Homo sapiens: one gene and its partners. The protein of the gene in region 2 purifies or fractionates together with the protein of the main gene of each other region. This does not show direct contact. Each region holds a gene or a part of one and is shown on either strand. Other genes may lie near its edges.

The links.
Region 1: the proteins of WAPL (region 2) and SMC1A purify together in Homo sapiens (affinity purification with mass spectrometry; 7 studies listed by BioGRID and IntAct, with this or other methods). This does not show direct contact.
Region 3: the proteins of WAPL (region 2) and DNAJC10 purify together in Homo sapiens (affinity purification with mass spectrometry; 3 studies listed by BioGRID and IntAct, with this or other methods). This does not show direct contact.

The regions. Positions count from the first base shown.
Region 1 is NC_000023.11:53,419,655-53,426,795, forward strand, and holds the start of SMC1A (structural maintenance of chromosomes protein 1A), read right to left. Parts: upstream 3,001-7,141; 5' UTR 2,947-3,000; coding exon 2,838-2,946; intron 2,387-2,837; exon of another isoform or gene 2,284-2,386; coding exon of another isoform or gene 2,241-2,283; intron 1-2,240. Other genes in the region: RIBC1 (RIB43A-like with coiled-coils protein 1), read left to right, coding at 6,623-6,739. UniProt on the Homo sapiens protein: Involved in chromosome cohesion during cell cycle and in DNA repair. Central component of cohesin complex. The cohesin complex is required for the cohesion of sister chromatids after DNA replication.
Region 2 is NC_000010.11:86,518,715-86,526,706, forward strand, and holds the start of WAPL (wings apart-like protein homolog), read right to left. Parts: upstream 3,079-7,992; 5' UTR 2,651-3,078; intron 1-2,650. UniProt on the Homo sapiens protein: Regulator of sister chromatid cohesion in mitosis which negatively regulates cohesin association with chromatin. Involved in both sister chromatid cohesion during interphase and sister-chromatid resolution during early stages of mitosis.
Region 3 is NC_000002.12:182,712,196-182,719,256, reverse strand, and holds the start of DNAJC10 (dnaJ homolog subfamily C member 10 isoform 1 precursor), read right to left. Parts: upstream 3,001-7,061; 5' UTR 2,774-3,000; intron 2,567-2,773; coding exon of another isoform or gene 2,493-2,566; exon of another isoform or gene 2,460-2,492; intron 2,242-2,459; 5' UTR 2,185-2,241; intron 1,317-2,184; 5' UTR 1,171-1,316; coding exon 967-1,170; intron 1-966. UniProt on the Homo sapiens protein: Endoplasmic reticulum disulfide reductase involved both in the correct folding of proteins and degradation of misfolded proteins.

The DNA.
Region 1 (7,141 bases), on a different chromosome or scaffold from region 2:
CTCTACTAAAAATACAAAAACTGGCCGGGCATAGTGGTGCACGCCTGTAATCCCAGCTCCTCAGGAGGCTGAGGCAGGAGAATAGCTTGAACCCGGGAGGCAGAGGTTGCAGTGAGCTGAGATCACGCCACTGCACTCCAGCCTGGGCGACAGAGAAAGACTTCATCTCAAAAAAAAAAAAAAGAAAAAAAAGAAAAGAATCACTTGAACCCAGCAGGCAGAAGTTGCAGTGAGCCGAGGTCATGCCACTGCACTCCAGTGTGGGCGTCAGAGTGAGACTCCATCTAAAAAAGCTTGCAAACTTGGGCTTAGAACCAACAGACCAGGTTCTAATCTTACTTTCACTACCACTTAGCTGACCTTCCATTCCCTCACCTGGAAAAAGATGAAAAAAACCACAATTCACGGGTCTAAAAATATGTGCGGCACATACTTCTCTATTGGAGTGGCAGGAGCACAGGCATGGGTTCTGAGAACCACGGACAAGTTATCACACCTCTGTGCCTTAGTCTCCTCATGTATAAAACGAAGCTATTGGCATTTTCCTCCTAGGGTCATTTTGAGAATTTAATTGTAAAGGGTCCCTTGGCTGGGTGCAGTGGCTCATGCCTGTAATCCCAGCACTTTGGGAGGCTGAGGCAGGCAGATCACTTGAGCCCAGGAGTTTGAGACCAGCCTGGCCAACTGGGAGAAACACCAACTCTACTAAAAATACAAGAACTAGCCAGATGGGGTGGCGCACGCCTGTAGTCCCAGCTACTTGGGAGGCTGAGGCACGAGAATCACTTGAACCCAAGAGGCAGAGGTTGCAGTGAGCCAACATCATGCCACTGCACTCCAGCCTGGACAACAGAGCAAGACTGTCTCAAAAAAAAAAAAAAAGAAAAGAAAAAGAAAAAGAAAAAACAGGGTCCCAATAAATAAAGTACTTGACACACAGAGTAGGTACTCAATTAATTAGTCCTATCCTAAGTCTGGACTCAGCTGTCTCCCTCATCACAGCAGGACTAGCACATCATGCAGACCAGGAGTCAGCCTTTTAGGAACCAATATCCAACCTTTGGGCTTCTCCCATCATTTCCAGGGAGGACAACATCATCTCACAACCCCAAGCCTCTCTAATCACAATCAATATGGTAAACATTTTTGTAATATATATTATGGACTGAACACCAGTAAAACGTTTCAAGGAATGTCTGCTTTAGGGTACTCACAGGCCAATGAAGATACAAAAACATGCACCATCAATATAGGACTTAATAAACATTAACGTGTACCAAGTGTCTACGGTATGCCACAGAGGAAGACTCACTCACCAAAGGGACTAAAGGAATGGCTTGTAGAGGTGGGCCTTGAAGAACGGGGGCAAGTGGGGGAGTGCCATAGCCCTTTTCAGAACAGCTGGGAATACAAATCTACTAATGCTGAGGGGACTGAATGCCAAGAGGTACATCCTAGCTCTTCCAACAGGGGCCACTACACTAAAACCCGAGGAAACTGGGTGGACACCAAGCATTAGCCCTCCAGGCCAGTGGTTCTCAAACAAGTTGGGGGGTTGGGGGAATCACACACACCCTCTGTGACATCTAGCAATGTCTAGAGACAGTTTTGATTGTCATGCCTGGGGAGCAGGGGTGCTACTGTTATCTAGCAGGTAGATGCCAGAGATGCTGTTAAACATCCTACAATGCACAGAGCACATCCCACAGCAAAGGATTATCTCGCTGGAAATGTCAATAGTGCCACTGTTGAGACACTCAGTCTCCAGGAAAGGTACTCAGTATGTGCTACTTCAGCAAGGGCAGCCTCTTAGGCTAGGATATCATTCAGCTAGAACATCTCTGGGGTGGAAGAATACAGCAGGATTCCAAATGGACATCTGAGGTGAGAGGAATCCACGGTGTATCGTTTAGAGTTGGGAAGACACAAAATAGAGGCTTTACCTGACCACCCTTTCTAAAGACACCACCTAAGTCACTTTATCACATCCACCTGTCTCATTTCCTGTATAGCACTTATGACAGCCTAAAACCATCTTATTTTCTCCTTATCTTCTTTCCCCTCTGGAATATAAGTTCCCTGTGAGCATGGAGTTGGTTTATTCTATTCTCCGCTGTTTCCACAACTTGCAACTGAATAACTCCTGATAAACAATAAGCATTCAACAAATTTGGTAAATTAGTTAATTTCGGCTTTTGACGGTTTCGGTGGTAGGAAAAGGGCGAGTTCGAGGCAACTACCTCTGACATAGCGGTGGGGGGTGGGGATCGACACCTCAAGCATTCTAAAGACTGGAGCGCTGGGTCTGAAATTCAAAAGTGCCGCCTCCAGAGAAGAGTAGAAAGGAGTTGGAGTGTACCAATGCGAGGCGAGAGAGGACGCTGGGCTGAAACAGAAGTGCACCGTTTGGGACCGAAGGCCACGGGAGAGCTACCAGCGTCCCCACATTCTCCGGAGGGGGTCAAGTAAGGCTGGGAAGCCGGCTCCGGCCGGTCCGGCGGGGAGCCGCGCGGCGGAGGACTGAGCTGGCGGGAAGCTGGTTCCAGACGCGACTCCTTTGGCGGGAGGGGGAAGTAGGCGGGGTAACTGGCAGCTCGGCCTGTACCACTGGGCCGGGGCGGGGGCCGCGCAGGAAGCGGCAAGTGACACCTGGAAGGGGTTCGAGTTAGAGCACCCGCGCGGGGAGAGTGGGTTCGAGCAGAACCCCCTCTGGACGGGCAAGGAACCCGTAAGGGTCCGCGACGTTTCAGGTTACATGGGCTGGGTTGTACTACTCCGGCACCGGATAAGGGGTCCAGGCCGGGACGTGCGCAGGGCCGCGGCCAGGTTTATCTCACCAGAGCCATTGGGTCCAATGATGGCGGTGAACCTCTGAAATGGTCCGATAATCTGTCGACCCTTGTACGACTTAAAGTTCTCAATCTCAATCAGTTTCAGGAACCCCATGACGGCCGCGGCGCCGGCGGCAGTAGGACAGGCCGCGCCGTACGCCCGAGAACTGAGGTAGCCCGCGCGGGAAACGCCGCAGTGCAAGCCGGGCGACCGGCAAATGTCGCGAGAATACGTCCAGGCCTAACGGGATTTTCGCCTTCCGGCAGGAGTGGGACCAGGGGCGGGGACTGATGTTGCGTATACGAGGAGCGAGCTGACGACTGGCGTGGTGCCTCCGCCCCCCTTTCTTGTTGCATGGCAACAACAAACACTTGCTCCTGCGGACCAGATCCCCGGAGGAGTTGTTGCTGGGCGGAGTCAGAGCAGTTCTTGAGGTTCAAGGAGGCGGGGGAGACCTGAGCTCACGCTTGCTGAGACAGAAGTCACAGCAGGATTATGCCCCTCAGGGCAAGAGGAAGGTGGGAGCTCGGCTGTGGCTTTAGCCTGGCCAGCTTTCAAGGCTAGGACAAGGACAGGGTCGGGAATTGGAAGGACCCGGGGGGAGCGGAGAGCTGGACGGGAAGGAGGGGCCAACGGGAGGATTCAGTGTTAGGTGAGCTCAGACTTTGCTAATGGTGGGGTGGGATTGGTGGCGGGACGGGTTGCGAAGGCGGACGGGTTGTGAATGGGACTGGGGCTACTCCCAGGCAACAGGGATACAGGCTGGGGAAGGCTACGGCCTGAGATACTACCCCTATCCCCTGCCTCCCTCCTGTTGTACCAAGCAGAGTTCAGAAACTGCCGCCGTAACCCAAGAACAAAGTTGCATGCAGAGCCAACCTAAGAGCTTCAAAATCGGGATTCCTTACTGAGAAAGGTATTTTGTGTGAACCCCCAGGAGTCAGGGTCCCTAAGCCAGCGCTCTCCACCTCCACCTACCTCTGCCTCCATGCCTCTCCCCCATCCCATTCCCACAGCTCTATACCACAATGCCACCTTACCTCTCTTCCCTCTCTGCTCTCTATCATTAATAAGGCAGGGGCCTTAGCAATCCAAGAAGCTTAAAATGTCAGCTGAATCTTCCCCTTCAGTGACCTTATACTGTAATGGCAGGTGAAACCAGTAGGTAAGTTGGTGCCATTCTCAGACTTAAACATGGAAAGGATCTGGTGGTTGCCATAATTATTCCTTTAACTATTTATTAAATTATGTCCGAAGGCTAGAAAGAGTCCTAAAGACTTAGGACAAGTCCAGGAAAGTGAGGAAGTGGCTGGGCATGGTGGCTGACAACTGTAATCCCATCGTGAGGGAGGCAGGCCAAGGCAGGAGGATCACTTGAGACCAGCAGTTCAAGACCAGCCTGGGCAACATAGTGAGACCCTATCTCTACTAAAAATTAAAAAATTAGCTGGGTGTGGCAGCTCTCACCTCTGGTCTACCCAGGATGCCGAAGCAGGAGGATCACTTGAGCCTGGGAGGTTGAGGCTGTAGTGAGTGGTGTCCGCACCACTTCACTCCAGCCTAGGTGACAGAGCAATACCCTGTCTCAAAAATAAATAAAGGGAGGAAGCTTGGTAGATGGAATCTAGTAGGGGAGCCATAAATGAAGTTCAGCTGGGAGAAACAATCAGGCTGAGGGGATAAAATGGCTAAAAGACAGCAATCTCATGTAATCCATGGGGAAATACTGTTCCCTTTTAAAAGATGAGATGGTGAGCCTGGGTAACATAGCAAAACCCAATCTCTACAAAAAAATTTTAAAAATTAGGCAGGCATGGTGGCACACACCTGTAGTCCCAGCTACTCAGGAGGCTGGGGCAGGAAGATCCTTTGAGCCCAGGAGTTTGAGGCTGCAGTGAGCCATGATTGCACCACTACACTCCATCCTGGGCAACAGAGAGAGACCCCATCTAAAACAAATTAAAAATAAAATAAATTTTATTCTCTGCCTCAGCCTTCCAAGTAGCTAGGATTACAGGTGCCCACTGCCACGCCTGGCTAATTTTTTTGTATTTTTAGTAAAGACAGGGTTTCACTATGTTGGCCAGGCTGGTCTTGAACTCCTGACCTCCTGATCCACCTGCCTCGGCCTCCCAAAGTGCTGGGATTACAGGCGTGAGCCACCGCGCCCGGCCAAAAATAAAATAAAATTTTAAATTTAAAAAAGATGAGATGGCACTTGGGGGGAAAATTAAATTGGATCCTTATCTCACACCATACACAAAATGCAACTCCAAGTGGATTAAAAACCTAAGTGACGCCGGGCACAATGGCTCATGCCTGTAATACCAGCACTTTGGGAGGCCGAGGCAGGAGAATTGCTTGAGTTCAAGACTAGCTTGGGCAATATAGTGAGACCCCATCTATATTAAAAAAAATTAAATGGGGCCAGGTGTGGTGGCTCATGCCTGTAATCCCAGCACTTTGGGAGGCCAAGGAGGGTGGATCATAAGGTCAGGAGATTGAGACTATCCTGGCTAACACTGTGAAACCCCATCTCTACTAAAAATACAAAAATCAGCCGGGCATATATGTTCAACTACTTCACAGTTACAAAATGGAAAACAAAACAAAACACCAAAAAGATCCAAATAGCTATAGGAGGAATTAAAGAATCACGCTCCAAACAAAGGAACAGCACATACAAAGGCCCCGGGGTGGGAACAATTACTGTGTTGGAGGACTTGATCAGCTTGCCTGGAGCACTGTAAGCAAGGGAGACAGTGGTTTGAGACAAATTGGAGAGGTGTGCAGGAACTAGATCTTGAAAGCCCACAGTAAGGAGTTTGGATCTGATTCTAAGTATAGTGGGAAGCTAGTGGAGGATTTAAGCAGGTGAGAGACATGATCAGATTTATGTTTGCTAAAGTTTTTTTGGCTGCAGCTTTGGCTGGGTTACATGCCAAAAGTGAGCTTCCCAAAATATGAAGGAACACAGGCAAATTTAGCTTTCTAGCCTTTCATTTGACCAGAAAATAAGTAATAAAAGTAAAAAAAAAAAAAAAAAAAAAAAAAAGGGTGGGGGGACATATATTTCAGAAAAGAAAGCTGCTTCTGGTTTCTGTGATTGGGCTATAGGAGTCAATAGAGGAAGCTGGAATACCAACATGGAGACAGTTGTGGTTATTCAGGAAGCTGGCAATGGTGGCTTGGATAAGGGTTATTTTGAAAGAAGAAGGAGTGAGGGAAAGGAAGGATTAAAGGATGTCTCCTAGGTTTTTGACCGGAGCAACTTGGTGAATGGTGGTGCCACTTACTGAAATAAGGAAAACTGAATAGAGTATAATGAAAAAGGAGTGTTGTAGATGTGTTTGAGGCTTAGAAAGGTGAGCAGGGGTCAGATCATGAAGAACCTTATAAATCTGGCAAAGGGGGTTGGGCCTTATAAGCACTGGGGAGCCATTGCTTTAAAGGTGCTTTCAAAGGCTTTACGCTGAGGAGTGCCATGGTCAGATTTGCTTCCCAAAGATCACTCTGGTAGCCAGTGCAGAGAAATCCAGTGCAGAGAGGGTAACGTTGGAGCAAGAGAACCCAGTGGGGCTCCTGAGATACTGCCTGACACCAGATTGTGAGGCCTGAATTAAGCTGGTGACAGCAGAGATGGAGGGCACAGATACGAAATATATCAGGAAGTAAAATCAGTAGGAATCAATAACTGCTGAAATATTATAGGGAGAAAGGAATGGGGGTGGCGTGTAGTCAAAGACGGTGGTCGGCACTGATGGGCCATTCCACCTCCCTTTTGCTCCAGATGTATAACATAAAACAGTCAACAGATACCAAGGAAGCAGCAGCCATCGAGGCTAGAAGAAATCGAGAAAAAGAGCGACAAAACCGATTCTTCAATGTGCGGAACCGAGTCATGGGGGTGAGTGGGTAGTAGGGACTGTTGCTCAGGATCAGGGCCACCTCACTCTTACACCTGGAGAGGAATGTGTAACAGTGCCCATGATAGCCCTTCCCCTGATTCAAGTAGGCCCCTAGGGCAGGAAAGGAAAGAGAGGGAGAGAAGGCACCCACCCCTACAGGCCTGGGAAGAGCTTGGGAAGAGGGATAGGTCAGTGCAGGGGAAGAGACTAGGGGAGACGGCTGACCCTTCTCCAGTCAGCTCTGGGCCATGTGACCTGGTTCTTGAGACAGGCAACATGGAGCTAAAAGAGGCCTAAAGAATATTTGGAGTCCGGGTGCAGTGGCTTACACCTGTAATCCCAGCACTTTAGGAGGCTGAGGTGAGCAGATCACACAAGGTCAGGAGTTAAAGACCAGCCTG
Region 2 (7,992 bases):
TTTTTCAGGGCCTCAGAAATATCCAATACTTGATTAAATTTAGTTCTTTGAAATTTCATGGCACTAATTCACATGAGAAAAAAGGTCCCCAAAATGGTGCTTTTTCTCATGTTTTACAACCTGCAGCTTTTAACCCAATCTTGAAGATTCTGCTTCTTGGTGTAATGTAATTTGCGCTGTGACTTTAAAAATGTTCCTTAGATGGTCATCTCCCTAGGGAAAGAAACTATCCTTATCCTATCTGCCTTGTCCCGATAGTGCTGTGCTCATTTGCTGAGTTATATTTTCTGGGGCTAGTGAGCTCCAGCATATTACACTGTTTCATGGATTAATACAGACATAGAAACATACAACTTTTATTTTCCTTTTCAATTTATAAATGGCAAATCGATTCACCTGATTTATCTACTTCACAGGACAAAAAAAAAAATCTTTAGGGCAGTAAATCAAGAGTCAAACATTTTTTAAAACAAGTTACTTGCATTAGTTCTGTGCCTATTAAAAAGTTATAGTACTTTTTAAACATGATCAATCAGTAACCGTTTGTCTAACACTTTGACCTTTCTACAGTTCAAACATGAATACATCGAATATAACTTTAAAAAGTGAACAAGGGCCTAAGGAATGAAAAATCATTACTTTGAAAGCTACAAGAATTGAAATTATATTTGACCTATACTTTTGAATATGTTTTGATCTACACTTGTTTTCCCTTGATTAACTTAAATTCTTACCATTTATAATGAGTCACTGTCTGAGTTTTATATAAATTCAGTAGTAGACCCCCCCCCATGTTTGGTGAGAACCCAATTTTAATTTGACAAGGTAATAATTTAGTCATCATACATATCTGCGTTAAGAGAAAACAGTGTTCCTGAAGGAGATGTATTTCATCTTCCACTGCAGCTCTAACACTAACAAGTCTTACTGTCTTTCTTGTTAAGTACAGCCTAAACAAAACAGGATACTGGGCAACTACCACGGACAACAAAATAAAAATCGATTCTCTGTTCCTTCAAGAATGTAAAGCTGAGATCCTGCAGGTCTGTAAGTGTACGTACACATACACACCAACAAAGATGGAATGTTTTGGATTCACTTATGTGCTAATCATCTAAAAATACTAACCAAAGGCCAAACCAAAAATCTAGACTTGAGTTCCTTTATGCCAACATCAGAAAAACTGTTAAAATGGTTCTATAACCACAAAGCATTCACTGTTGAAAGTTTGAAGTCTTCAGATGAATACCTGACACTAAGGACTTAATTATTTTATGTGATAAAAAATAATTTTGTGCTGGCTGGGGGCGGCAGGTCACGCCTGTAATTCCAGCACTCTGGGAAGCCAAGACGGGCAGATCACCTGAGGCCAGGAGTTCGAGACCAGCCTGACCAACATGGAGAAACCACGTTTCTACTAAAAATAGAAAATTAGCCGGGCGTGGTGGCGCATGCCTGTAATCCCAGCTACTCCGGAGGCTGGGGCAGGAGAATCAATTGAACCTGGGAGGCGGAGGTTGCGGTGAGCTGAGATCGCGCCACTGCACTCCAGCCTGGGCAACAAGGGCGAAACTCCGTCTCAAAATAATAATAATAATGATAATAATAATTTTGTGCCAAAAGACCACGTCTTTTACAAATACATAGTGAAATACTGATGAAATAACGTCAGCGATTTTCCAACATTAAGGAATGAGAAGTGTATAGATGAAATAAATTTGTTTAATAGTCACTGCTAAATCCAAGCGATGGGTACAGAGAAGTTCATTATATAATATCTCCTCCTGATTGCCTTTATCGTTTCCCACAATAAAATGTCTTTGCAATGGCATTATCTAAGCGTAAAGCACTACAGATTCCAAAATAAGTGTGCAGACGTCCTTGAAGTTAAATTTTAAGTGTTTCAAGTACACAATCTTGCTCAACCTTTAAACTCCAAAGACTGTCCTAACTAAAAAGGAAAGAATGATTGACGACTAAGTCTTTTCGGTCGTTCGGCTTTTGCCCTAGCCCAAAATCAGGTCGAATTTTGAGAGAAGTGCGCTGTGATTTAAAAAAAAAAAAAAAAAAAAAAAAGCAAAAAGCCTTTATACTTCACTCCCACCCTAATCTAGCGTCTTCCCGATCCCCAAAGGCTTTAAGGGCTTCCATTAAAGATGGAAAGCGGACGGGACGAACCTGACTAACCAGAAATCCTCACCTGGGGACAGCCGGGGCGCCACGGGCAGTGGGCGCGATGGACCCCTCGGACTAGACACTCAATGCAACTTTTCTCCTCCCAACCCGCGCCGCCCAGGAAAGGGAGGTCACTTTCGACGCCCCGGAAGCCTCTGCCACCGAATCCTTAAGGCAGTGCAAGGCCCCAGTGGCGGCCAGAGGCGGATGAAACCACGGGAAAGGACTCGGGGCTGAAATCAACACACTTGACTGGGTTTGGGGAGCTAAGTCAATCAGCAGTCGCCCGAAAAAGAACTCCGAAAAAGGAAAATAAAAGGGGAAAAAAAGAGTTCCTCAGGTCATTCCCCTGCCCAACTTCCTCAGCGGCCCGGTGGGCGAGGCAGTGAGACTTCCACCGCCCGCTCCCAGCCTCTGCCTCCCCCACCCTCCCGGCTCCCTCCCGGCCTAGGCGGCCGCCCGACACCTCACTTACCCTCGGAGCCTGGCGGGTGCTTTGGCCACGGGCCGCCTCCGCCTCTCCCGCTCCCTACGGCCCGCGGGCGGGCGCGGAACCCTCGCGCGGGAGAGCAGGGCCGGCAGGTGAGAGCCGAGAGAGGCGAGGGACTCTGCTTTCGGTAAATAGGAAGCCCGGTTGGGGGGGCAGGAGCGGCGGCCCCGCAACTTCCCTCCCCGCCTCGAGCGCCGCCGGCCGGGCCCAGGCCTAGCTCTCGCTGGCCGCCACTGCTGGAGCTGGTAACAGAGCCTGCTGTGTGCCCCCGCTGGGCCGCCGCCGCCTCCTGCGCCGCCGCTTCCGCCGGTGAATGGTCAGTGCTGGAGTTTGAACAGGGCCCTGAACCATCTCAACGCCATTTGCGCTCCCGGCCCCCACCTCCTTCCTCCAACAGCCGCTCGCTCCGTCACTCCGCTTCCCACAGTCCCCGCGCGGCCGCCCGACCCCGCAGCCAATCGCGCAGCCGCTTACTCAAACCGCCGCGCAGGCGCTGCGCCCCGCATGCTCCGGCGCCCGCCATTGGCCCGGCCGCGGAGCCCGACGGGAGTTGTAGTCCAGGTCCGCGAGGTCGCGGGCCGAGGACCAGGCGCGGGAGCGGGAGCGGGCGACTGGCCGGGCCCTCCCGGTCTCGGCAGCCACTTCTAGCTCCCGGCCCAGCCGGGAGACGCAGGTGCCACGGAGATGGGCAGCCGGGCGGGTGGCGCAGTGCAGGCAGCTGTATCAATCGCTTCCCCTCCAGGGACCCGCCGGTGCCTGGGGACCGCGGGCTGTGCAGCTGTGCCGGGCCTGCGGAGGCCGCCGCCCGGGAGCTGGGAGGCAGGGGGCGCGTGGTCAAGAGCCGCCCTCGACCTGGCCTGGTCGGTCCTGGCCCGGCGTAGGTGACGATGGCGGGGACCGCGAGGCGCCGGACACCCGAGGCCACGAGCAGCGTCGCCCCTCGCTTTTTCGCGCCCCTCCAGCCCTGCAGTCCTTCCTCTAAGTCCGTCTGCCCCTCACCGATTGAAAGTGGCCCCGAGAATATTGGATGGTATTGAGCAATTATCATTAACTTTGTTGGGTGTGGTAACGGTAATGTGGTTATGGTTTTTTGTTTTTTTTTTTTTAAGACCTACTGATGTGTTGACAGAGTGATCTGGTGTCAGGACTGTAAAATACGCCTATGAAAACTGGGGGAGAGGAATAAAACAAGCTGGCAGAACGTTTTTCATCGTTGAAGCTGCGTGATGCGAGCATATGTGCTCATCATACAGTCTCTTTACTTGTGTATCTGAAATTTTCCATAATAAAAAGTTTAAAGAAGTGAACCAGCGATTGCCTCTAGGGAGGACAGTGAGGTGGCGGATGACGGGAGGAAGGAGTCTTAATTTTTCGCTGTACGCCTTTTTGTGCTATCTTAGGTTTTTCCCATTCAATGTGTTACCTAATTCAGAAAATTGGTAAGTTTTTTTTAAGGCTACCATGGGAAAACAGCGTTCTAAAGAGTAGCGCAACCAGTTCCCCCTAAGAGAGGTGCATGATTCGTCGGACTCCGACAGCCTTGGTGTTTGTTAGGCGGTTAATGGAGACCCACCTGGGAAATTAGAAAACTACTAATTGCTTTCAGTGAGAAGCCCGCCCTTCTCCCACAAATGGATAATTTGCTTTTAATGCACCCAGAAGTTATCCAGCTCCCTCCGGTATAATCGGGGAAACTCCAAATAAAGGAAAAATAGTTCAGAGACCCTGCAGCTCTTCCCAAGAGGAATTTAAGGTGGATTTTAGTGTGGTTGGATTGTTTTGCCTACCTGACTGCAGAATTTATATTCTGACATTTACAATTTCCTAAATACTGAATCAGTACTTTTTCTTGTTTCAAAATAAATCAACTTCTTCTGTAGTTTATATGAAAAACAAGTCCATGTCTTCCACTGTGGGTGGGATGCACATGACTGTTTTATTTGGGTCAGTTTTGTCTCTTTTTTTAATTGGCAGTTTAGGAACTTGTTTTTATCATTTTGTTTAAAGATCTTCTGGCAGAGGTGCAGGCTGCACTTACTATAATTATTTAGATGACAAGGTGGTGGGTGGTAATTAAAGGGTAATTATCATCAGAGGCAAAAGGTAAGATCAAAAAACCAGAAGAGGTGAGGAAACAATTGCAAGATCTTCCTGTAGGAGGGTGTCGTGATCCTCCCAAGACCAAAGGATATGTCTATTATGCCTGGCCTCTCTAGTGCTGGACACTTGGCAGGGTCAGTGCCTGCATGAGGCTGAAGTGGAAGGGCTTATTGTTTAGACTGGTGCCTTTTGAGGGCTTTTATGTGATGGTTGTGTTAAGTAATGAAACTTAGTAGTGTCAAATTCTTGCCACTCAAAGAATGATCCCCAATCAGCAGTGTAGCATCACCTGGAAGCCTGTAAGGAACGCATAATTCCTATCCCTCACCCCAGCTCCACTGAATCAGAACCTGCATTTTAACAGGATTCCCCCAGCTGATTGGGCTGCACATTAAAGTTTGACAAGCACTGATTTAAAGTATACCCATAGCATTTGACAGCAATCTAGTATTTTTCGTTAGGATGAGGGAGAGGAAGGGAGATGATTAAGAACCTCCTATGCATCAGGTAAGATGCTAGGCTGTTCAGGGGCCTTGTCTGCTTCCCAGTCCATTACTCTATCTTACAAGTAAGGAAATGGGAAGACTTGTATGTTACAACTAATGAGGGAGTCAAACTTTTTCTTGACGGTTGGATACCCTTTAGTACTTCTTGGTGTTCTTGAATCTGGTAGAAAGTGGTACATGATTTGAGAAGTAAAGTGTGTGTGAGTGTGTGTGTGTGTGTGTGTGTGTGTGTGTATTTAGTCTGTGGAAGCTTAGTATATGAATATTAAGCAGAGCTCTTCTGGGCTCTGTACCCTTGTGTGGCTCACACTAAAGACACCCCTCGGGCCCCTCCTGGAGGGAGTTCAGACTCCTGGCCCTGCAGGCTGTACCACCACCTTAACCCCTTACCTCCCTGCTTCCACTGAGGCAAGCAAATGCCCTGAAGTCCCCTCATTCCCTTACCAGGGCCCTGGGTTCCACACCAGAATGAGCAAACAGAACTCCAGTGTGGGTAACACATGGCTGAACAGCTTTTTGTTGTATTGTTTTTGTTTTCTTAGTTCTCTCAGCTCAGGCTCCATCCCCCTGGCCACCTCAACCCCTAGAATGGTTGTCTCCATTTCATGAGAATCTTCACACTAACATCAAGTAGCCAGTAGGTGCTTTTGGTTTTGCTAGAATGCCTGTGTGCAAGCTCTCAGATACCTGATTTTCTTTCCCCCACTGAATGTTGTGTTTGTCAGAAACTGAAATCATGGATCAGAGCCAAGTTTGTAGTACCCTTAGGAGGGGCCTCTGCCCTCCTGTGTGCTGCCTGGGTGAGGACAGAACCCCCTAACCTGGAGCTCCACTTGAGTGGGCCCATACCTGTACTTTCCTCTGAAAAAAGAAAATCCTGCAAAGAAAATAGAAGACATCTGTTCTGCCATTGCCATGCCCTTGTTCTAGCCCAGACATGAGAACTGTCAGAATTGGAGTTACTAAATAGAACTTTTAGTCTTTTTCTGATAATGTGTAGTAAAGTGTATTACAACTTATAGAATTCTATTTAGGGAACTACAGGTCAGAAACTACCATATTGGTAGCAGTCAATTTTTCTTTGCCATCGGATGTGGAATAAAATGTTAAATTGTACACTTGCATGTTGTGGTTATATTACAAAGCTCTACGAGATGTGGGCCAGGCCCTGCCCTTTGCTCATGCAGCCCCAACTTTCTGCTCTGCCCACACCTGACTCCTTGCTGTTTCCCCACCTTAGGGCCTTTGTATTTCCTATTCCCTCTGCCTACAACTCCCCCAGATACCAGCCTGCTTCAATTCTCTCCTCTAGGTTTTCACTCAGATGGGACTTTTCAATGAATCTCCCCTGACCAACCTATCTTAAATTGTTGCAACATCCTCACTCCTAAATGTCACTGTCCCTGCTTTACTTTCTTTAAGGGCATTTATCTTCCCATCTAACATATCAGGCATTTTGCATGTTTATCTTAAATGTTGTGCTCCCTCTGAAGGCAGGGATCTCTGCCTGTCTTGTTTTCTGCTGCAACCCTAGCACCTAGAAGACTGCCTGGCACAAGAGTAGGTGCTCAATAAATATTTGTTGAATAAAAGCACCCATTTATTTCCTTCTTTCATGTAAAATTATATACATATATTATATATATATATATATATATTTTTTTTTTTTTTTTTTTAGACGGAGTCTCGCTCTGTCACCAGGCTGGAGTGCAGTGGCGCGATCTCGGCTCACTGCAATCTCTGCCTCCCTGGTTCAAGCGATTCCCCTGCCTCAGCCTCCCCAGTAGCTGGGACTACAGGCGCACACCACCACACCCAGCTCATTTTTTGTATTTTAGTAGAGATGGTGTTTTGCATGTTGGCCAGGATGGTTTCGATCTCTTGACCTTGTGATCCGCCTGGCTCAGCCTCCCAAAGTGCTGGGATTACAGGTGTGAGCTACCATGCCTGGCCACATTTTTTTTTTTTTTTTTTTTTTTTTTTTTTGGTGACAGAGTCTTGCTCTGTCGCCCAGGCTGGAATGTAGTGGCACGATCTCCAATCACTGCAACCTCCACCTCCAGGGTTCAAGCCATCCTCCCACCTCAGCCTCCCAAGTAGCTGGGACTACATGTCCATGCTATCATGCCCCACTAATTTTTGTATTTTTGGTAGAGATAGGGTTTCACCTTGTTGCCCAGGCTGGTCTTGAACTTCTGGGCTCAAGCCATCCACCTACCTTGGCCTCCCAAAGTGCTGGAATTACAGGCATGAGCCACTGCCCCTGCCTATATCTTGAAAGGAAAGTGATAAAACTATCAACAGTTTCACATAACCTGGTAGCTCTAATAAAATGTTAACTGGGTTTTCACAATTGGGAGGGGAGTGCTTTCTGGAGAACTTTTGTTCTTGCCTTGGATAGGTTTTCATTCTGAGAATTGAGAAAATGAGTACTGTTATAATCCCAATTATCATATTTCCCAGGATAATTGGAATATGTTCTCTGGAGATAGTGACGTCCTCTGGGGAATACACTGCTGTCTAGGTAGATGAAACACAAAGCAAAGGAAATTCTCTAGGAGCACATTGCCTGACAAGGACCGGTACAAGCAACCTCGAAGAAGTCTGGCTTCCTGACCCTTGTCCTGGAAACAGCCCTTTTTTATTCAGGATCCTCACCCTTAATACTGTATGATACCCGCCTAGTCAAACACCCTGAAGGGTCCTCCTGTAATACTAAAA
Region 3 (7,061 bases), on a different chromosome or scaffold from region 2:
AAAAAAGAAAACAATCCAAAATTGGATCGGAAATGTTTCTTCCTTGTTACTGTGCTTCATAAAATTTGTTTCTGAAGGATGCTTTCATTTAAATAATACTCGGATGGTAGAAGGTCTACTGTCTTTTATATGGAAACTTAAAAATCATTATTTGAAATTTTAAAGAAAAATTAAAAAAAAATAAAAACCTTAAATAGAATGTGGATCTTAGGAAAAGATAATCAACTAAACAATATTTAAAGAAATATTGTTTCTCTTGCTCAGCTTTATGCAATGAAAATAATCCTATTTTAAAACTTCTACCTAGAAAAGAGAAAATTATAACTATGTCTTCTTGTTAATGATGAACGCTAAATCTCACTAAGAAATAATCAAATAAATTACAAAAACACCATAAAAATTAAAATGAGTTTAGTTTTGAAAGATTTACATTAATGTGTACATAAATATTTATGACTGGCATTATATTCAGCTGCTGTGAAGTATTAATTTATAAAACTTTCTAACTCTGGTTTGTGGACTTGTGCATACACAGAAGAAAACAGTCAAAGTTAAAACATGCTATTATTAGCTATTACTTCTATTTTTAGCAAGTCATACCCTCTGAGTTTTAAAAAAATATTTTTGTTCCTGTTCTAAAACACTTGATCTTAACCTACTTTAATAAGAAAACTACTTCAACTACTTCACGGATATTATCGTTTGTTTTGGGGTTAATGTCTTTAATAGAATTGTTGGAAAATCGTCTACAAATTAAGAGGGAACTGAATTTTTGGTACTGACATTCCTTCACGGGATCCTAAATAATCCAGAACATTTTGGTGCTTTTGTTTCTAGCATACAAGTTGAATTATAATTTTGACATATGATTATTCTTAAGCATTTGATCATTTAAAGCAATTTAAATAAATATCAAAATGTACCAAAAATATAATCAAATATTTTTAAAAACAAACGTTTACCTACCGGGTTTTTATCAGGATGTAACTTCAATGCCAATTTCTTGAAAGCTTGTCTTATTTCTCTACTGCTTGCAGTTTTGGACACTCCAAGTAAACTGTAAAAATCCTGATCTGTGCCCACTAAAATGGCCATATACACTATCAGAAAACAGAGAATGATCCTTTTCAAGTCTCTGATATAGTCATCTTTATTTAACCAGACTCCCATTCTCTTTCTTATGCAAGTTCTGATTTAAGTGAACATTAAGATTCACTGCTGGTTCCAGTTGATGTAATATGCAAATTTGAGAACTTCTGTCTACATTACTTCAAGGGTGAATCAAGCATCACAAATCTGTCCCCAAAAATATTAATCTAAGAAAGAAAAGCAGGCAGTTAAAATACATTTTGAACTAAACAATAATAGCACAATTTATTTATCACAGAACATGGTCAGCAATACAATCTCCATTAAATGGCAAATCAGTGTGAATGCCCCAGGTTCTATTTTTCACTCTTTCTACATCCATGTAGCTAGATTTGTGAAATCACTGAAGATAGCAGAAAAAAGGTCATGAGTGGTAGTAAGTAGCTTGCACACACACCCTCAGCAATTTATACACTGAGAAAAGACCTCTGACGAGCATCAGAACACAAAGGTGGCAATGAGCTACAGGTGCTTCCTCTTTCTACCCAGTTATAGCGTTGCCTGTAATACCTCTTCCTTTTAGCTACTTCTTTACCTCCTAAAGCTGTCTAATTTTCATTTTCAGCAGAATTCACTTGTAGGAAATGTCCTTGGGAGGGACTAGAAGGAAACATAGGGTTTTTTACTTCTCATATAACCCTACCAGAAATGACAGTGAAATATATTGTTATAATAGACAATCTACACAGCAGTCGATCTTCTTCCCGGAGTTTCCTCAGAAGGTGCTTATACTGAATTTAAGTAGAGGCCATTTTTTAAAAATAGTAGAAAAACAATTGTAAGTTACCAGTGTAATTTTATTGCAAAGTTCATGTTTGGTGTAAGTAGAAACAAAACACAAAAAGAGAAGGGAATCGGTTATTTAGACATACTCTCTGCAGGGCAAAAACAATCATTACTTCATCATATCACATTTCAACCACTATATTTTAGTTCCAAAGAGATCGTAATGCTTTGAAAAATCTAACGCTCCTCGCACCTCATTTCTGTTTTTCATTTAATCCTAAATGTATATTTAAAAATTTTTCTCTTTACCTGTGAATGGTCTTCAGCTCATTTCTAATACTTCCTTTTCATTCCACAAAAATATACCTTTGAAAAATATAATGATGTAGAGATTAACAAGTATCCAAACAAGAAAACAACCATCAGAAAAAGAGAGGGCATAGTCTCAATCAACACTTTGGGATAAGATGTTTCTCGCCCAGGGGTTGTTCTCAGCGTGGGTGTGGCCGAACTGCCCGTGGCCCGAGCTACCGGGCAGGTGGAAGCGCCAGGTAAATGCAAGGCGCAAGCTTTCGCATTGCCATCACTGCAGAGTGGGAGAGGGGAGAGGGGTAAAGATGAAGACACGGGGGAACAGGGCTGTTAAGTGTTGCTGGTGTCTGAAGTCTCAGGTCGGACTTAGGGAGAAAGTGTAAGTAACTGAGAGGGAATCGCTGGGCAGAGGAAGGGTGGTGTGAATAACAGGGAGGAGGAAGGTGGGGAGCGAGAACACAATATCCAGGTCTTAAGAGCGCACAGGAAGGGAGGTTCAGGCGCTCAGCCATTCCGCCCCTCCCTGACCGGAGGGCCCAGGCCACCACCGGCTCCAGCAAAGCCCTAGCCCCGGGCCCATGCCCACCTTGCCATCGCGGGGTCGCTTCCTGTAGCTACTCCCCCATCCTCAAACCCTGGCGGCGGACCCCGCCTGGCCGAGCCCAAGCACCGCGTGCAGGAGAGAAGCACACGCACTCTCCGACGGCCCAGCCGCGGCGCACGGGATTGGTGAGGTGCAGCCACACCGGCGACTACCAGCGCGCGGCCGGTACCGGTAGGTTCCTCACGCGCCGGTCTCCACGGCGAGCCGGGGCGGGGCCTGGCGCGGAGCATTGTGGGAAAGGCGTGGAGGACGCTGCCTGGGGAGACCCGCTGCGGGCCCAGCGGGCGCTGCGGCGGTGGGGTGGAGAGGGCGGTGTAGGTTTAGGTTGACGTGGCGGTGTGCGCGGGATCCGGCTCCGGCTCCGGCTCCAACCCGGAGCTGAGGGAACTGCCCTGGCCAAGCAGCCCGCGCCCCCTCACCAATGCGGCCGGCGCCTGCCGCGGGCGGGGAGGGTGGATGGCGAAGCCCGCCTCTTCCTGCTTCCGTTGCCAGGGTGACGGGGAAACCCAGAGGGTGGGTTTTGGGGTTGAGTTCCCTGAGAGTCTTTTAAAGGGAAGACGGAGCTTTGGAGGATTTGTCTGGGTGATGGGTGGGTGAGACCGAAAGGCGAAATTTGGCGGAGAAAGGAGAAGTTGCCTGAAGCGACACTGATTGCAGTATCAGGCTAGCGGACTGAAGAGGCAGTAGGAAACTTGAAGGAAATTAAAACATTTACAATTTTGTGTAAGCGTGTGTATCAACAAGCATTTGAGACTTCTACAATATTTTCTGGATTCTGAGTCATACAAGCTAGAAACTGGGGAGTTATCGTTGTTCTCTCTTACCTTGATCTCCTACTGCTATGGTACAGGAACTGCATTTTGTCCCACAGCAATATAACAATTGAAGTGGTTATATTTACTACATTTTCTATATTTAAAAGAGAAAACCGAGCCTAGAGGATACCTGCTTATAACATCAACCCTAACATGAAATAAGTTGTGATTGGTAACAGTTTCGGGGAGTAAATCAAGTGTCAGCTTCTAAAAACTTGGAAAACTACACAGGATCTATGGCTAAGCTAATACTTGGTAGGAAAGAAGAGGAAGTAGAATGAACAAAGGCAAACATTAGAAGCAGCCTGATGTAATAGTAGTTAATATGTCTCAGGAACTGGTCTAAGCACACATGTAGTAACTCATTTAGTCCTCCAAATAATCTTACAAGATAGTGGCTCCTATATCTATTTCCCATTTGAGGAAACTGAGGCAAATATTTGAGAGCTAGGATTCACATCTAAGCAACCTGGCTTCAGAGACTATGATGTTAAGCATTATGACACAGTGTGTAACCATTTTGTTACACACTGTAACAAAATCTTAAAGTAAATTGAAAAACAAACAGAAAACTGGAAGATGAAGCAGGGACCAGATCACAGACAGGTTTTTATACCAAGATGAAGACATAGATTTCTATCTCTTAGGTGATGAGGAAGCTTTTAAAAAAGAGACTGAGATTGTATTTTAGATCATCCTGGCAGCTATTGGAGAGAGGATGCAAAGCATACAAAACTGGAGAAAGAACAGGAGAATGTTAGACAAATAGGGTAAATGCTTTAAGAGGTGGTGGGCCGGGTGTGGTGGCTCACGCTTGTAATCGCAGAACTTTGAGGGGCTGAGGCGGGTGGATCACTTGAGGTCAAGAGGTCGAGACCAGCCTGGCCAACGTGGTGAAATCCCATCTCTACTAAAAATACAAAAATAAGCCGGGCATGGTGGCACACCCCTATAATCCCAGCTACTCGGGAGTCAAGAGAATCGCTTGAACCCGGGAGACAGAGGTTGCAGTGAGCCAAGATCACACCACTGCACACCAGCCTGGGTACAGAGCAAGACTCTGTCTTGGGGGAAAAAAAAAAGTAAGAGATGGTGATTGGTTGGATATGGGAGATAAAGGAAAGATTTAAGTTTAACTTCTGACTTCTTATGGCTGAATACTACCCACTGAATGAAGATCTGTTTAGGGAAAAGATAAAGGGTTCTGACTTGGACATATCTAGTTCAAGGTTCCTAGATCATATCTTAGTGAATATACCCTGCATAAAACTCATGGGTAATGTCTAGATTGGAGAAAAAATAGGAGAAAAATCATCAGATCACCCAAAGAAAGTGTGCAGAATAAGTAAAGTTGTGGACCAAGGATTAAAACCTTGGGGAATTCTAACATCAAGAATGAAAGCACACACGGAAAAAGAATCTAAGCTTCATGAAGGTGGATTTTTGTTCATTTTATTTACTGTTATGGCTCCAGCTGTTCTTACTATATGGTAGGTACTACATAAATATTTTTTGAATGAATAAACATTAATTTGAGAAATAGGCTGAAGAAGAAGAACCCATACAGGATGTAAAAAAGAGATGATCAGAGATGGGCAAAAGGAACTAAACATCAAGGAAGTTAGAGTGAGTCAGATAAGATACTGACTGCAACTTGTTAATTAGGTCTGGCAATTAGGAGGTTATAGGGACCTTAGTAAGCACAATTTTGGTGGATGGTAAGGCTGGAAGTTAGATTGTAGTAGACTAAAGATTGGCTAGGAGCTGAGGAAATGGAAATAGCAAGTACATATACTCTGTTCAGAGTTTGGGTGAAAAGAGGAAGGAAACTCATGTAACTAGAAGAGGATGTGGATTCCAAAGAGGAAATGCTTTAGGCTTGGAAAGGCTTGAGCAAGTTCATAAGCTGAGTAGAAGCCAAAAAAGAAAGAGGCCACAGATATGAGAGGGATGGAGTCAAGAGCACAGATGGATTGATAATCTTACACAGTTCATTTATTTATTTATTTAGTATTTTTTGAGATGGAGTTTTGTTCTTATTGTCCAGGCTGGAGTGCAATGGTGCGATCTTGGCTCATTGCAATCTCTGCTTCCCAGGTTCAAGCAATTCTCCTGTCTCAGCCTCCCAAGTAGTGGGGATTACAGGCACATGCCACCACACCTAAATAATTTTTGTATTTTTAGTAGAGACGAGGTTTCATCATATTGGTCAGGCTGGTCTCGAACTCCTGACCTCAGGTGATCTGCCCACCTCAGCCTCCCAAAGTGCACATTTAATTTATTAATTAAAGTAGTCTACTGTTCTCTGGGCTAGGTCATTAGGGTTACTGTGGTGAGCAAGGACATAGCTCTGCCCTCAGTAAGTAGGATAATAGAGGACACATCAATTATTCAAACAAATCTGTAATTATGAAGGAAGAATACATAGTGTTGTGATGTTGTGAGCTACTCTAGGGGCAAAGATTTGCCAAAGGTTTCACCAAAAATAAAAATAAAAAGGAAGAAATTTAACATATATGGGCAAAAAATTAGGCAATATTATAGTCAGATTGAACAGCAAGTGCATAGTTCTTGTACTTCAAAAGAGCATGGGTGTTAAAGGAACAAAAAGATCACCAGAATGTAGCAAGCCAAAAGGAGAGAGTCAACAAAATGGGAATGTAAAAGCAGACAGGGACAAGATGTAGTTTATTTTAAGGAGTTTGGGCCTTTTCCTATGAGCAATGGGAAGCCACAGAAGTGTTTAAACAACGGAATGTCATTACAGTATTGAATTATTTAATTTAAAAAAACTGAGCCAGGCGCGGTGGCTCATACCTGTAATCCCAGCACTTTGGGAGGCTGAGGCAGGCGGATCACGAGGTCAGGAGATTGAGACCATCCTGGCTAACACAGTGAAACCCCATCTCTACAAAAAATACAAAAAATTAGCCAGGCGTGGTGGTGGGCTCCTGTAGTCCCAGTTACTCAGGAGGCTGAGACAGGAGAATGGCATGAACCTGAGAGGCGGAGCTTGCAGTGAGCAGAGATCAGGCCACTGCACTCCAGCTTAGGCAACAGAGCAAGACTCCGTCTCAAAAAAAAAGAAAAAAATGGAAAAGAATTTCAAAGTTACAAGAATGTTAAATGTATAGAACAAGTAATTTTGTTTCCTCAACCATTTGTGAGTAAGTTGTTAACTTCTTGTCCCGTTGTCTCCCAAAACTGGTTTATGTTTTTTAACAAACAAGGACATTCTCCTTCATAACCAAAACACAATCATCAAAATCCAGAAATTAACACTGATATCTTATTACCATCTAATCCTCAGACCCCATTTAGGTCTTGCCAATTGTCCCAATAACATATTTGCGGTACAAAGATCTACCTGGCAACTACTTGTTTCAATTTAGTGTCCTGATATTTCAGGCTCCCTCAGTTGGAAACAGTTCTTCAGTTTTTCCTTGACTTTTAAG